2 separate regions of the Homo sapiens genome follow, and region 1 is linked to region 2. Evidence: fine-mapped expression QTL. A gene starts in region 2. The other region holds a variant in brackets. All regions are shown on one strand. Distances are from middle to middle.

The links.
Region 1: its variant is fine-mapped to the expression of DCTD in whole blood (TOPMed, PIP above 0.99).

What each region holds. Positions count from the first base shown.
Region 1 is chr4:182,873,026-182,881,352 of GRCh38, reverse strand. LOC105377576 (a long non-coding RNA gene) reads left to right here and starts at 1,816. Exons shown (of 3, transcript XR_007058403.1): 1 at 1,816-2,698; 2 at 3,593-3,842; 3 at 6,475-8,327. The variant ATAC/C (reference allele first, on the strand shown) is at 3,812.
Region 2 is chr4:182,912,515-182,920,841 of GRCh38, reverse strand. DCTD (dCMP deaminase) reads left to right here and starts at 3,456. Exons shown (of 6, transcript NM_001921.3): 1 at 3,456-3,531; 2 at 5,267-5,381; 3 at 5,784-5,919. The coding sequence starts at 5,274. RefSeq lists an enhancer at 1,492-1,541 and a silencer at 3,115-3,824.

The sequences.
Region 1 (8,327 bases), 39 kb after region 2:
GGTGGGAGCAGGGAGGAGAGGGTTCTGAAAGGTTCTTACGAGAATCACAGGAAAAAGAGGTGAGGAGCAGCGTGGCCACACATGCCTCCCCCCCCCACCCACGAAAAAGTGGGGCTCTTTACCAAACAGCAGCAGCAGATTGATGAGAAGCGTCATGGCCGAGCATCTCTGAGTCACGGTGAGCACGCACAGAAGAGACCAAGGTGGAGTGTGCCCCTCCTGCCCCAAAGCACCTTTGGCTAAACATTGTCTGTTGGGTCGTGAGTAGGGAGGAGCAAAGTGAACAGTCACTAAATCCATAGCAGGGCTAAGTCCAAGCAGCACATGCTGAGGCCTGGGCGGGGGCTCCAGGCTTGCTGGGTTTGCAGCCCCAGCTGCGGGTCTCAAAGCCAGCACAGATCACAAGAGCAAGGCCAGCAGCTCCTCCAGGGAAGAGCAAAACGCTGCCTTGGAAACACATTTTAATTGATGAAAGGATTCTTTGTTTTAGCCGCTGATGGCAGTGCAAGTGAACTTCAGGGCACTCGAGGTGCTTTGGCCCAATTAGGAAGTCAGCCGGAGCCTCCCGTCACAGGCAGCCATGGTACCTGCTGTCTGATGTTTTGCCAACTTGCTTTAGTGCAATCACCCCGCTGCACCGGGATGTTTCAATTTAGACTTCTGCTACGTCAGGACTCTGAAGACGCTCATTGTCTGGGAGTGGGCTTCCTGCCTGTTACCTCTTTCCTCCTGCCTCTCCTCTCTTGGACACAGCTGTGACATTGCTCACTGGCCAAGTGAGTTGTTACTGTCCCTCGGCTGCGGGTTGGCAGGTTTCCACTCTCGGAGGAGCAGCAGCAGGGTTTGCAGGCGAAGATCCTGGACTCTGTCAATGCAAGCCCGGCACCTTGGCATTGGGAGTGCTGGAGTTCTTTGTGAGTCATCTGTGTGGCCGGCATGGCACAGTCGTTGCTGGAGAATATTAGAGTTTAGAATCGTATCTCCAGCATTGCTTTGTAGATAAGGACATGCAGTTAGGACTTAGGCAGGCTTGCACAGCTCTAGAGGTAGAACGGGGCTGAGAACTCAGGTTCCCCAGCTTGGAGGCTGGTGCCCATACCAAGACACTGGGCCAAGTGACATGGGGTCTTGGGACAGCTCATGAAGCTGGGTGCTAAGGCAGGCAAATGGGAGCCGTAGTCTGTGGCCCTCCACCACAGCTGGCTTTCCAGCCTCTCTGCTCCTGCCTTCCGATTCCTGATGCCCTAGCCTTGCCGGCCTGTTTTCCTTCTCGAGCGTTCCTTTCCAGATCGGCAGCTGCACTTGCTATTTCTTCTTCCCAGGTGAGAATTCTCTCCGCCAGCTCTTCCCACAGTTTCCTCCTTCCTATTTCCAGCACTTCCACTCAGAGTCCGCTCCTCAGAGGGGCCCACCCTGGCCCACCCTGTCTACCAGCACCCCCAAGACCCCCACCTCCCAGTAACCATCAGGTCACCCAGTTTCTTTCTTTACATAACTCTTTTGTCTATTTGTCTTACTGTTTTCTGTTTGTGTCCCCCCAAAACAGCAGGGCCAAGCCTGCTTTATTCCTCTTGACTCTCTAGTGCCTAGAACAGTGCCTGGCCCAGGGGTTTTGGGTTTTTTTGTTAGTTTGTTTGTTTTCTGAGATGGAGTCTCACTCTGTCACCCAGGCTGGAGTGCAGTGGTGCGATCTCAGCTCACTGCAACCTCCGCCCCCCGGGTTCAAGCAATTCTCCTGCCTCAGCCTCCCAAGTAGCTGGGACTACAGGTGCGTGCCACTACACCCAGCTAATTTTTGTATTTTTAGTAGAGACGGGGTTTCACCATGTTGGCCAGGCTGGTCTCGAACTCCTGACCTCGTGATCTGCCTGCCTTGGGCTCCTGAGTGTTTTCAGATAAGTAGATATTAAGTGACTGACTGAGTAAAGGGATACACTGGATCTATGGAAGTCTTGATCCAAAAAGCTCTCCATTGTCCAGTCAGACTCCCTTTTCCATCTCCAGGGCAGACCAGGGCATGGTATAAACTGACTCCACTCCTTGTGTGTAATACAGTGTCTTCCTAGAGAGGGCGTCTGTCATTCCACCCCCAGGGACTGCTTGGCATCTGTGTGGCAGGGGCCATGCTGTTCCCCGCTGGGAGCACCATCCTACAGTAATCTCTGTGCAGGATGCTATTATAAGAAAGACTTGGGACTTTGTCCCCACTCTGCAACCTCACACCCCAAACTGGGAAGGTGCTGAGAAACCGAAGATTGGCTCGGACAAGTCCAGCTTGGCCAGTAGATGACTCTATTGAGGGCCCTCCTGGGTGGCGGCAGGACAGCTCTAGAGGTTCGCACTGCTGCCATCACTAAGCAAAGTCTCTGGTTCCTGGCCTGCTGTGTGTGATGGGACTGCCTTCCTGGGTAGGTTCCCAGATACTCCCAGGGACACACGCTCCTCGCTGGGCCCCCCTGGCCTTGGCTCCTTGCCTGGCCTTCAGGGTTCAGGCAGTGGACATCCACCCCACGTGACATGGTGGGACACCTGTCACACCACCGATGCCCCTGCAGATGGGCCACGCAACAGCCCTCGGGCCTTCCTGTCTCAGAGCAGGGCTGATCACAGTCAGGCCCACTGCAGTGGAGAAAGACTGTGCAGAGCTAGACGCTGGACTCGGATCCTCTCTAGCGTGGGACAGGCACTGGGCACCCAGGTCAGCTGCAGTTCCTGAGAGAGGGCAGCCCCAGAGTCAGAATCAAGGTGTCAATAATAGGAGAAACGATGGTGGGGAGGAGACCAAGGCATTAATATAGGAACTCTGTATACTTTCCAGTCAATTTTTCCATAAAACTAAAACTGCTCTAAAAAAGGAGTCTGTTAATTTTTTAAAATCTCAAAAAGAATGTGGCTGGTGCCACAATGAACAATTTGAGTGAGAAGCTACTCAACGAGGTCAGAGGCATCAGAGAGGAAGAACACAGCAGCCTGTTTTCTTTGCTGCTCTTTACCGTTAGAAAGAACACTTTTACAACAGACTCTGTTTGAGGACAAACGCTCCACATTTTTGCCCGCTGGCAGCAGTCATAAATTATGAGATTTCTGAGGGGCACAAAACTGCAGCGGTCTAAACCAGGCAACAAAAATCAGCCAAGTCCTTATCAGGATCCCCTACAAATTCTATTGACTTTTTTGGATCTGTTTGTCCCTAGGTGTGAACTAGGGAAAAGTCAGGCGAGTCTGCCTTGCTAGTATATTTAAAAGAGGATCTTGGAGAATTTGAAAGAAAATGTGGAAGAAGAAATGACAGTGCTTGGTGAAAGTCAGCAGAAGGGCTTGATAATGGAACAGACTAAGGGTGGTGGATAGTTTTAAGGTTGAGAGAGAAATGGAATTAAAAAAAAGGGAGATATTCCTGGGGGCTTGAAGCAAGAAGCAGCAGCCGAGAGCAGCGCTGATCAGGATGTGAAGGGAGCTTGGTGCGGAGGGCAGTGCTTCCTATGAGAAAAAGTCCAGTGGTCAATCTTTTGGGAAGGAGCTGGTGGGATGAGGGGGCAGCTGGACTGACCTGAGTGCTGTTGTACTGTCTGACCATCTCCTTTGTAAACAGACGCTCCACACTCATGCTCAGAGCAGCATTATTCACAGCAGCCAGGAGGGGGACGTCGCCCAGGTGTTCCTCGGTGGATGAATGGATAAAGAAAATGTAAACACACAGTGGAATCTTACTCAGCCTTGAAAAGGAAGGAAAGTCCATCCAACACATGCTACTGCATGGACGAACTTTGGACAGTGAGCTAAGTGAAAGGAGACAGTCACAAAAGGACAA[ATAC/C]CAGATGATCCCACCTGCGCGAGATGATGTGAGTGTCAAATACATAGAGACAGAAAGTAGGATGGTGGGTGCGGGGCCTGGGAGAGGGGAAAATGGGAGTTGTTTAACAGATACAGACTTTCAGTTTTGTGAGATGAAAAGTTCCGGAGGTTGATTGCAAAGCAGTGTGCATATAGTTAACACTGCTTAACTGTACACTTAGAAATGGTTAAGATGGTAAATTTTATGTTATGTGTTTTTTTTGTTTTGTTTTGTTTTGTTTTTTTGAGATGGAATCTCTCTCTGTCGCCCAGGCTGGAGTGCAATGGCACGATCTCAGCTCACTGCAGCCTCCACCTCCTAGGTTCAAGCCATTCTCCTGCCTCAGCCTCCTGAGTAGCTGGGACTACAGCCTCACGCCACATGTCCGGCTAATTGTATTTTTAGTAGAGACAGGGTTTCATCATGTTGGCCAGGCTGGTCTGGAAATCCTGACCTCAAGTGATCCACCCGCCTCGGCCTCTCAAAGTGCTGGGATTGCAGACGTGAGCCACCGTGCCTGGCCTTATTATGTGTGTGGTTGTTTTTGTTTTGTTTTGTTTTTTTGTTTTCTTACCACACACACACACATACAAAACAGCTGCCCTGGCCCCTAGAGTAGTGAATTTTCACCAGCAGCCACCTAGGGGGTGAATTTTCTGATCATTTTGGGCTCAGTTCTGAAGTTCTGACTTTGAGCCCCACCTCACTCTGAATCTACAATCATTCTCTCTCCTGTCATCCTGTTGCAGTCTGCTCAGCTGCCCATAACTAAATACAAGGGACTGGGCGGCTTAAACAATAAGCCTTTACTTCTCACTGTTCTGGAGGCTGGGAAGTCTGAGATCAGGTGCTGGCATGGCCGGGTTCTGGTGAGGGCTCTCTTCCTGGCTTGTGGACGGCCGCCTTCTCACTGTGGGCTCACCTGGCAGGGAGTGGGGCCGGGAGCAACGGCTCTGGTCTCTTAGAAAGCTACTAATCCCATCGTAAGGGCGATACCCTCATGACTGCATCCAAACCTAATTACCTATAAAGGCCCTACCTCCAAAAACCCTCACATGGAGGGTTAAAGTTTTGACATATGAATTTGGGAGAGGGACACAGCTCAGTCCCTAGCACACCTTTCCTCCAACCCCAGAATTCAAAGGAGCAGCACACATTCCTTCAGCTCCGTCCATTGTAGCCTCCATTCCTCCTACGCTGTCTGAGCATCCTGGACTGTCTTGGGAACACCTGTCCTGTTTCCACCAGCTCCCTGGGATCTGCGGTGCAGACACCCCCTGAGAATGCCCACTCGGCTCCCCTGGGTCTTTAACCCAGGGACCGGCCAGATGTCTTGCTCACATGTCATAAATATGATTGCAATGTGGCTGTGCGTGGAACCCTGGCCCACTCTGGACCCTGAGCTCCAGAGACTCCGAGGCAGAGCTGCATTTCTATTATCACTTAGTAATTGGAGTTTTGCAGGCTTGGGATTACTGCTAATGGAAAGCAAATGGGCCAAGAATCAAGAAATAAGCACTTGAACAGCCAGCAGCACTCGGTAAAGCAAAGAGGCTATTATGCCACTTTATGTGGATAGAGATCATCATTTGCAGAAAGATTTGCAAAAATCTTTCCAGCCCATGGAAACAATGCCCACCAGGCCTTCTGGTGGCCCTGCCCTCCCTGCCTGGTGCAGCTAAGTGGCCGCCCAGGTAGGGAGCCTCACCTGCAGCACAAATTACCACCCGAAGCCAGCCTCTCCCGCTTGGCAGGAGCAAGGTTTGATCTTGCCTTCGCTGCCTGCTTTCTCGCTGGTACACAGAGCTCAGAGAAGCTCTTGGAACCAAAAGCCCTCCCACACACCCTGCCTCAGACTTCCTCGGCCTTCTCACCAGCCCCAGCCCAGAGAACAGGCGGTGATAGGGCTGCCATGAGCTGCTGTGACGGAAAGCTCGGAACAGTGGCTCTTGACTCAAGGAGAGAGAAGTGGCTGTAAAGAGTGACGTTTCCCGGGGTTTGCTGACCCCTGGTCTCCGGGTTAGTCTTGCCCTTTCTCCTCTGTGGGGTTGTGTCACCATCATACATTTACATGAGGGTCCTTTTCTCCATAGATCACGCCACCCCCTTCCCAGTGGCTAAAAGGCAATTTAATATGCAGAAGCTCTGCTAGAACAGCATTAGGTTATGACATGAGGAAATGGAAAAAAAACATCTAAGCCCAAACTCTGCCCTTCAGCCGTCCTCCTGAGACAGCGTGCTGCTGTCAGCCAAGGACAGAGTGGGCACGCTGGGGTTCTTGGGCTCAGCAAACAACAGGAAAACTGAGGCAACTTCAGCTGCTTACAAGAGAGAGACACAAGATTCACATGAGTTCCTAAGTTCAAGTTGGCTGAGGGGCTCAAGGGACTCACCGCGTCCCTCCCTCACTCCGGCAGATGCTGGGACGCTTCCAGACAGCCCCGGACATAGGGGGAGAGGGAGAGGCATGGAAACCCTCTTACCTTAGCCCCTCAGAAAGGTGCCTCCACTCATTGGTGACTCCCTCACTTAGCCATTAAATGTCACTACAGCCCGTTCGCACAGGGGAGAGAATCTACATCTAGCAGTAAAAAAAGGTGATGAAATGAAAGAAGTTGTGAAATGACATTTTTTTCCAGCAGGTTTGTCATATCTCCTGCATGGAGGAAAATTGCTTTCTGTAAATCTTGGTCCAACAGAACAAAACACCTATTTCTTTCCAGTTGGGAGGACAGCCATTCTCATCGGTATAATGAACGTATTGTAAGCTGTGACTTTTACAAAGTCTGAGGGAAACCAATCTGCAATCTTGACAGATACGATCTTTCCAGATGCACTGTTCGTTTACGGCGGCAAGAGAGCTCAATTAATTTCTGAGGGAGGACGGCAGGATGCGACCCCTTGTGCGTGGCCTAGGAGGAACTGTCCCTGTGTGAATTTATGTTCTGGTAATTTAAAAAGATTTATATTAAGCTTTTCTTTCATTTTGAGAGTAGATTAAAATTCTAATGGAAACCATTTGTATGCATTTGTTGAATTGAAGAGTATTTATGGCTGTGTAAAAAAAATGCTGCAAAATTCTGCCGATAATAAAGTCAGTGAAGCAAGAATAAGTGTAAAAACAGGAAGGAAATACGCGATAGAAACCATACTGTATTATACAAGTATAATGAGGGAGGCAAGCCGAGCAGAACGGGGCAGGGATTAGGCCCCCGGATGGGATAGTTTTTCTTATTTAGTGTAAGGCTTTTGTAGCCCTTTTATGACTTAAAACAAAATTTAAATTTTGAAACAGGCCAGGTCAGTCTGCACAGACCCCATGGCCACATCACTGTGTCACATCATTCTTGAACTCCTGCCGGTGTCTAGGACAAACAGGCAGGAAAGAAAATCCAAGCGGCGTCTCAGAGAAAAGATGCTGATGGCAGGAAAAGAAGACCCATGAAACAGGAGGCGGGGGTCAGCGAGCAAGGTGAAAATCAGAGCCCCGGAGTGCAGTGCAGGTGGAAGAGAGGTAGCAAAACCAGGGAAGTCGCCGTGCTCGGGACAGTCCAGTGTGTCCCTGGCATCCCCAGTCATTGCCGTGGCCACCTGATCAGAACCTGTACAGAAGCTGCCCCATCTCCTCCACGGTGAGGGCCAAGTTGCATGTGCCACAGCCCTGTCGGTGACCTTTCTGCGGGCTGGGGAAGCAGAGACAACGGCCTGACAATCTGCAGGCACAGCCATCCAAGGGGACAGGGTCCATGCAACAGCCACCAGAGAAAGCTCCTCACTGCCACCTTTGCAGAGGGAGAAAAGCAGAAAGCATCGTGGAGGCCCTTTATCATGTTGGAAGGCCAGAGACATTTGGCATTCCGTCAAGGTCCATCTTAGAGTTGAGAGAGAGTTTCACCAGGAAACTCACATTCTCTCAGAACTAGCAGCCGTGATCGCATGTCGAAGTCAGGCAACGCCAAGCGTGATGGTTAACAGCGCTAAGACAGGAGAAAATGGAAATTCCCTGAGAGTCCACTGCTCTGCTCCTGCGGCGGTGCTTTTCCCCCTCGTTGTAAGCATGCTCTTTACCAGAGCTGCACGGATGTCATAAACTGCCTCACGATGCACTAGAGCAGAATCGTGCGTTAGCAAATTTCACAGATGCAAAGTGGGATTTCTGTCAATGGAAGCCTGCATGGAAAATACGGAACAGCTTAAGAAAGTACTGTCTTCTCTCAAAATTCCACAGGAGCCTGAAATGCAGGGGTTCCGGCCTAGGCGTTTTTTGAGGCAAATAACGTCGCCACACGGCCGAGATACAGGCCCCTTTTTGCCCCATGAGACTTACTGGCCTCAGAGTCCGGCCGCTTCTGTTTTGTTTCTTCATGTATCCTTGGCTTCTAGCGCAGTTCCTGGTACACAGCAGGCGCTCAATACATATTTGCTGAGCTAAGCAAATATGTCCTAGGCCCTGTGGAAGATACGACATGAGGAAGACCAGGTCCCTGCCAAA
Region 2 (8,327 bases):
CTTCATTGTAATTTTGAAGATGTATAATGACAAAGTAATTGGTGGCTTCAACTCATAACAAAAACGCTGTTTAGGGATCCTGATTTTTTTTCTGATAGGAGTGCTCTGTCATGTCAATTTGCAGTCTGTATGCCCTTCATGGAACACAAACAACTGACCTCATGCTCTAACATACATACGAAAATGTATATACAGGTTGAATATCCCTTCTCCAAAATGCTTAGGACCAGAAGTGTTTCAGGTTTTGGATTTTTTCAGATTTGGGAATATGTGCATATATGTAATGAGGTGTCCTGGGGATGGGACCCAAATCTAAACACAATATATATTTATGTTTAATATACACCTTACATACATAGCCTGGAAGTAGTTTGACAGGATATTTTTCATAATTTTGTGCACCTATCACATGAGGTCAGGTGTGAATTTCCCACTTGTGGGAGTGTCAGCACTCAAAAAGTTTCAGATCTTAGAGCATTTTGGATTTTGAATTTTCAGGTTAGGGATGCTCAACCTGTACTGTATTGATAAGACCACATATTTATTTTTTTCTAGAATTTTCATTGTGACTTTTTTGTGGTTTAGCAGACTTACAGTCATCCCTTACTTAAGATTTAAAAAGAGTTTTCTCTAGTTTGCACTTTAGCATGGAAACATAAACAATTATTCCTTTGAAAACCAGTCAAAGTGGCACTTTGCCTCTAAGTGCAGTTGTTATGCAAAGGAGTTTTTGGTCCTGACTGACAACCACCAAATTAAGAACAACAGGCAGTTTATAACAACATTTACTATGTTCACTGGGCCAGCAATAAGGTTCATTTTTTTCTGTGTTTATTTGCGGAGAGGGGAATGTGAGGGCAAGAACTGGCTTATAGTATCCATCATGGTATTTACAGCACTTAGCACATAGCAGGGAATTAATAAAAAATGAATATTGTTGATTTTACAGAGACTCCAAGAATGGAAGTAGCTTCTCAAGGTTACTCGGGTTGTAAGAAGTGGGAGTAGGGTTCAAAGTCTGGTCTGACTCCAAGGCCGGTGCTCTTTCTCTCATGACAAACTTGATGGACAGATTGGCCACCTTCCTGACTCCTTGCCTCTGTTTCCCCAGTCACAGGTCTCATCCTTACCTTGGCAGGCAGAGGAGGTGGAAGGAGGGGCAGGTAGTATCTCGGTACGGCAGACATTTGCAAATGCCATCAACCCCTCTTCTGAGGCAGCCCTGGAAGAGTCTTACCTTGACTTCTGTTTTTAATCGGGATCCCCTACCTAAGGCACACTGAAATATTAATATATTCCAGGTTATGCTCTAGACTAGACATAGATAGCACGAAACCCCATAAACAAAAGGGCCAAGACAGTAGTCCTTAGGAATGTGCTGATTGGGTTCAACCTGTGTGAGGCCCTCAAGGAAGGCCAATCTAGATAGGGCTGAACACATACCTAACCTCTGTATCTGTAGTAGGTGGAGAAAGATCCTCAATTATAAGCCCAAATACAAGGTATTAGCAAGAGAGATTTAACACCTACAGTCACACTTGGAGTTACAAGGTGTTAATGAGAAAGACATACCAAGGAATATATTTCTCCCCCCTTTGGCCGCGTGGCTTCACTATTGGTGTACAATATTTGAAACCTCAAGTTGTGAAACTCTGAACCAGGAGGGTTTCCTGTATTATGAATGATGTCATCTTTAAGATGAGGGACTTTCAGTGAAATGCGGGAACATTCAGGGTAATGTGTTTTCAGCAAGCAGGAGCTTGAATTTATGGCAGAGGGGAGTGTGTGAGTTGACCAAAATGGAGAGTGATGAGAAGTAACTAAATTATGTATGACAGTCTTTACCGAGCAGAGGAAGGAAGAAAGCTTAATGATGTTGTGGTTGAAGGAGCAGCAGCAATTGGTGATGTATGGGTTGTAGGTTGGTAAGAAGAGAAATGGATCTATGAAGACCCAAAGACTGTAGATGAGTGTGACAAAGACCAAGCGGTGGATTTGGGAGGAGGAGGGAAACCAGGGGCTCGGGATATATGACACATTTTAGCGGCAACAAGACAGCCATGTAAAGTCAACTTGAAATTAAAAATCATCATCTTAATCTATGTGGCTCTTTCAAGCCTGAGTCTTATCAAGGCAAAAAAAAAAAAAAAAAAATCTATAGTTAACGATGAAGTATTTCTCCCTTTTGCTTTCCCGGCATCCACCAAGAGCAGTACATAATTTAATTATTGAATCTACAAGCTGGACCATGAGATGAAGAATGATGTGTCTGCTGTAGTGAGAAATTAGATAGAACCAACTGTTTACTCTCATCATTCTTCCTCCGTTAGGCTAAATTAATATAGTTAACAAGCTTTTGTTTGGAATAGCAGTTCAAATCTGGGATGTGCAGATCAGAACTGGCGATTATTACAGTAGCTGTTATTTATGGAGTGCTGACAGTCCCCTCAAGTCCCATGAATGAAACAGAAAGGGGTTCTTCTGTCATTCTCTGTGCTAGAACCACTGTAAGGGGCTAGACGTCTGCACAGGGTAACGAAGTTCATGAAAACCAGATTAAGTTGCTTGGGGCATACGACTCCAGAAATGTCACTGATGGTCTTTCCTATTGCCCTGTTTTTCTCATCTTTGAAACAACTGCAACAAAATGTGCACTATATAAGTGGGCGAGCATTACCAGGAGGTAACATGCAGGTGGGGTGCCTGTGCGGTGATACGGGTCGAGCAGGGCGCGGCAGGCTTTAGCAAACACCTCAGGCCCTTCCGCACAATTTGAGCAGAAACTGAAAGCCTGTCAGGCGCAGCCAAATGCAAATCTAGCTTCGAGGCACTGAGCCTCGAGGCACAGCGCCCCCGCCGGACCCAGTTCCCTGCCCCATCCAGTGTGTGAAACTGTGACCCAGCCACCGGCCAAGGGTCCCCACGGGGACGCTGCGACACAGCGGGCTCACTCCAGAGACCCAAACCAGGTCTCCCCACCTCCCGCCCCGCCAGTTTCACGGCACTAGATTCTTGGGGTCGTCTTTTAATCACAATCTCCATAGCCGTGTCTCTAAGCAGTTGATGGAACACGGATGGTGGGGAAAACCTCACCACCGCCACCACCACCAAACCAAGCAGCCCCCGACGGTCGTGCAGTCAGGCCCGGGAGCGCCCAACTCGCGGCCACCCAGCGCCACGCGTGACCCGGGCAGCGGGGCGACCTCGGGGCGGTCTGGCACCCGGGAAGTAGTTTGTGCTCGGGCTCTGAACACCGCCGGCCGGACCGCGGGCTGCGTCACGGGGACCGGGAGGCGTACGGCGACGCGGAGCAGCGCCTTTGCGGCGTGCGACCCGCCCCCGCCGTCCCTCCCTCCCTCCCCTCAGGGCTTCGGGCCCCCGGGGCCAGCCGCCGTCCTGCGAACGCGCGGCGCCCGGGCCGCTGCCCCCTTCCGGCCCCGCGGCGGCCCCGCCTCCTCCCCCGACTTCCTTCCCTGAGCACGGCGGCGGCGGGGACGAGCACCGGCCTGCGCGCGGAGCCGGCACCGGATGGTGGGCGGGGGCCAGCCGTGCGGGTACGCGGCCCGCGCGCCCCTAGCCACCGCCGCGTGGCACCGTCCCGAGCGCGTGGCGCGGGGCGCTGGCTGCCGGGCGGGGGCCTGGGGCCGCGGACGCTGGGGGCGCCTCGGCCGCGCTCAGCCTTTAGATCGGAGAATGCGGGCGGGGTGGGGGCGCTCGGGGTCCCCGCAGTCACTCCAGGGTCGATTTCTCGGCGGGCGCCGCGGCCTGTGCGAGGCCGGGCCCCTTGGAGTGCCCCGGGAGGTGGTGCTGGGCGTCTGAACACCACATCCCTTCCTGCGCCCGTGTGTGGGTTGGGAATGCCGGGTGTAGGCCCTGGATCAGAGCTGACGGGGTTGCGAGCGGCGTGGGGTGTGCCTGGGACGGTGACCGGATGTGTCTTCCTGAATCGTTGTATTCGAGCTCCAGTTCTCTCTGTTTCTACAGCTGGGCCTCAGTCCTCACAGGGCTCTAGTGGGCGTTCAGCCACACCAGGAGAAGGCGCCCAGGGGATTAACAGGACCCTTCCCTCTCCTGCTCTTCCCTCGCCCCCCATGGCTCCCCCTCCCTCCTATTTAGTAGGTACTTCTCCAGCACCCCACAGCGATGATGGATGCTGGCCCTAAAGCCAGGTGGGAAACCAGGCTGATTCAGCACCTGTCTTTTCCTGTTAGGGGGGTTGCCAGGCCTCTCAGATGTGGGGCAGCGTAATCAGTGGGTGACCGTGGTTCCCAGCACCCACTCTCCACTGCATCCTTGTCTTAGGCACTGCCGCCCTGCACTGTAGCAGATGCCTAAATAAAGTGTGGAGCCTGAAGCAGAAGTTTTGGGAGATGCTTGCCTTCCTTTAGACCACATTCCTCGCCTTTCTCAAGATTTCTCCGTGGTACCCACCCCGTTTTTGTGTTGTCTTCCTTCCTTGCCCTTGTTTCATTCCTTTTGAAAGCGACCACTCCCCTGAAGTCCTAGGACCCCCTTCGTGGGCTCTCCCTGCCGTAGACAGTCTCTGCTTGCCCCTGGTAAACTACGTTCCAAAAACCTTGCTTTAGGAGTAGCACTTGACGTTTTTCATAGTTTCTTCTCATGTAATTCATTACTCGGAGTTGATAACTTCTGTCCCATCTGGATTATTGAGGAGAAAGGGAAGGGAAAAATTATCTGGTTAATATCAGAGTTGGGAAGGCTTCAGATGTTTTCTTTGAATCCGTCTGGCATGGATGATAATCCTGTGTGGTTTAGGTTAAGTTACCTAAGTTCTCTGAGTCTGTGTAAGATGGGATGGCACTGTCTACCTTAGCTAGGAGTAAGGCTTGAGTGACATGATGTGTATAAACTTTAACAATGTCTGGAATCTATAGATGATCAATAAATATTTCTTTTTTCCACCCTCCTCCTGTGCTGACTCCGCTTTGTAAGGGAGACAGGTAAAGGACACAACAATTTGTAGGCTGGCATAAAAAATCCTATGAGAAAGCAGTAAATAGATGAAATATTTGGGAACGTGAAGCTATAGGTTTCAAATTCAAACTTCTGAAATAGGAAATTTCTTAAGTTTTTACTTAAGACCAGAGACTGTTTAGGGCCCATGTGCTGTGATTTCTGATTGATAAATGTAGCTGAAGTTGCCCATGTTTAGAGATTTAAAGGTTCAGTGTGGTTGGGTTGAACTGGAAAACAGACTTACTAAAATGCTTCTCTCAACTTCTGTTTTGTCATGTTTTTCTTCTAGACCCAACATGAGTGAAGTTTCCTGCAAGAAACGGGACGACTATTTGGAATGGCCAGAGTATTTTATGGCTGTGGCCTTCTTATCAGCACAGAGAAGCAAAGATCCAAATTCCCAGGTAAATGAATTTCACGGGAGAATGCTTAGATACTCACAGGCAAAGAGATTACTGCACATGAGCAGAAAGGGGAGACTCAGTGGACGCCTGTCAACTTAAAAGTGCAGGGTCGGTCTGCCTTTTGTGCTGCGTTTCTACAAGCTTAGTTCTTCCTGTGAGACAGAAAATTGTCACATGCCATTGTTAACTGCCTCTTGTGCCCCTTCTGGGACTGGGGGTGCACTTTCCTTGGCTTGTGGGTGCTGCCACAAAAAACCAGGCAAGGAGACCGACAGCTCTCAGCACCTGCAGCAGCTATGCGTCTGTTTTGAGTTCTGCAGTCCCCCTGGTTTTATTCCCTGCTTCCACAGCGGCAGACCAGCCAGTTGCAGGCACCAAGCCTTTGGGCATGTTTCCTTCTAGGTCGGCGCCTGCATCGTGAATTCAGAAAACAAGATTGTCGGGATTGGGTACAATGGGATGCCAAATGGGTGCAGTGATGACGTGTTGCCTTGGAGAAGGACAGCAGAGAATAAGCTGGACACCAAATACCCGTACGGTAGGGCAAGTTTTATGTCCCATTCTGCTTAGTGACATAGCCTGGTGAGTGCCTAATTAAGAAAGTTGGTCAGAAGGCATCATCTCCCTTTTGTCATCAACAACTGGAAAGAAAAGTATCCTACTGAACTACCCCAATTTCCTGGCCTTGTCTCTTAAGTTCCAAAGAGAGCCACGGAGAGAAGCATGGTAGTGGCCACACAGGCTGGCCCTGAGATCCAGGGCTCTGCTGCCTGTGCTGAGCCTGGCAGGCTTCACTGGCAACCTGCTGGCCTGCACCACACCAGTGCACTGATAGTCGGCGTCTCTGCAGAGGGTCACAGCCCCTTGCAGAGATAGCTGAGGGATGTGCATGGTGTCTCTGTGGGTTCCTTTTTTTACTACTTGGAAGCAGGGTCGGCTAACCAGGGGCTGGCTCGGGCTTTGGTCTGATGAGAAGCAGGCTTCATTCAGCCCATGTGCCTGATGAGAACATCTGGCTCAAGCTCATTGCTGGCAAGCAGGAATCAAACTGTGAACTAGACATCAGGAGATGGAGGATCCAGTTGCTTCCTCCAGTTACAGGGGATGCTGCAATTTCACAGTAGGCTGTGGTCAGACCAAAAGCCAGAAGTGAGGCTGGGCACGATGGCTCACGCCTGTAATCCCAACACTTTGGGAGGTGGAGACGGGCAGATCACCTGAGGTCAGGAGTTCGAGACCAGCCTAGCCAACATGGTGAAACCCCATCTCTACTAAAAATACAAAAATTAGCTGTGCGTGGTGGCAGGTGCCTGTAATCTCAGCTACTCGGGAGGCTGAGGAAGGAGAATCGCTTGAACTCAGGAGGTGGAGGTTGTAGTGAGCCAAGACTGCGCCACTGCACTCCAGCCTGGGTGACAGAGCAAGACTCTGTCTCAAAAAACAAAACAAAAACAAACAAACAAAAAACAAAACAAAAACAAAGAAAAGAAAAAGCTAGAAGTGTAGAACTGTAAACCTTTGGCTTGACTGTCTCTGGATTTTCCCCTTGAAATTAGGGAAGGCTGCTTCTTAGAGTTTGTTGCCTGTCTAAGCCCCAGGGAAAATTCCTTCAGAGATTGCCTGGGAGGGTCCAGCCATAGCTTTACTTTTCCTTGCATTCCTTGGAGAATATGCAAGCAATGCTGGAAAAGAGGCAAATCATGCTGGGTATGCAGGTTGCTGATTTTTGTAAGGTTAGGCCCTGTATTTTATGTCTGAGAATGAACAGACTGGCGCTGTTGGAAGTGAAGGGAGAGTAAGGCCATCCAAATGGGAAAGATTGTGTCTTCAGGCCAAGGCGTGATGTACGACCTTTCTTCTTTGTTGACTCTCCTGGTAGGTTTTCTTCTGGGTTTTTCTCATGAAGAATCCAAGTCAACATTTAGTCTAATTTATATATTTTTACTAATGTTCCTGGACCTCAATCATGTTAAATAAGCCCCATAAATTTCTTTCTAAATTGCCTAGGGGCAACTTCTCCATGTTTGAAAGAAAAAGTTAAGAGGTACCTGGAGAGAGAGGAGGAACTGAGGACTGCAAAGCAGTCTGGGTTTCCAGGATGTGAAAAGTAGTTTAGGGATGAAGGGGACCGAATCCTCAGATCCTTGATTTAACCTCACCCTCCCTCGTCGGAGTGGGAAGAGAGGATGGAGTTGGGGGAGGGTAAGACTGTCTTCTCAGCACAGCTTCAGAGCCGGTGGTAGTGGATGACTAATTAGAAAAATGCGCGGACTCAGAAACTGTCACCCTGATTTTGATTCTATAAGCTTTTGATGGTAAGAAAGAAGGGAAGTGATTAGTTGTTTTTAAGTCCATGCAAAGATAATTTTTCACAGTGCGGTTCAAAGTCCCCTATAAAAATGGTGAAAGTGGAGGGTCGATATGTTAAAGGTCTGCATTGAACTGTGTGACGGCCACAGTCAGTATGTCACCGAGTCTGGGCAGTGAAATATTGGCCCTGGGGCTGGACTTTGATATGGAGGAATTCTGGGGGGATGGCGGTCCGTCATACTCAAGCTGGTGCAAAAGATACCCGTGGTTGGACAGTGCGGAGGGGTCCTGGGTGAGCACTGAGTGGGCCTCCCAATGGGGCCTGTGCCTTCTTCAGTCACCCAGAGCCCCCAGCAGATCTTTAAGCAGTGACCTGGAAGCCAAGGGCCATGCAGTACATTTGCAGCACCTGCCCCACACCCCAGACTTCCCAGCTCTCCTGACTTCCCGTGTAGCTGATTTTGTTGGTTATGAGACACTGCCTTTTGTCCAAATTGAGGAGAGTACCTTTCAGAGCCCCTTTCTAGAAGGAATTTTTTTAAAAACCTGCATAGGTATTTGTCCAACTTCACCGATTGTTTTTTATTGAATAGCTCCTGAGCTCCTGGGCACTGGTTGTCTGTCTGCATTATTTTT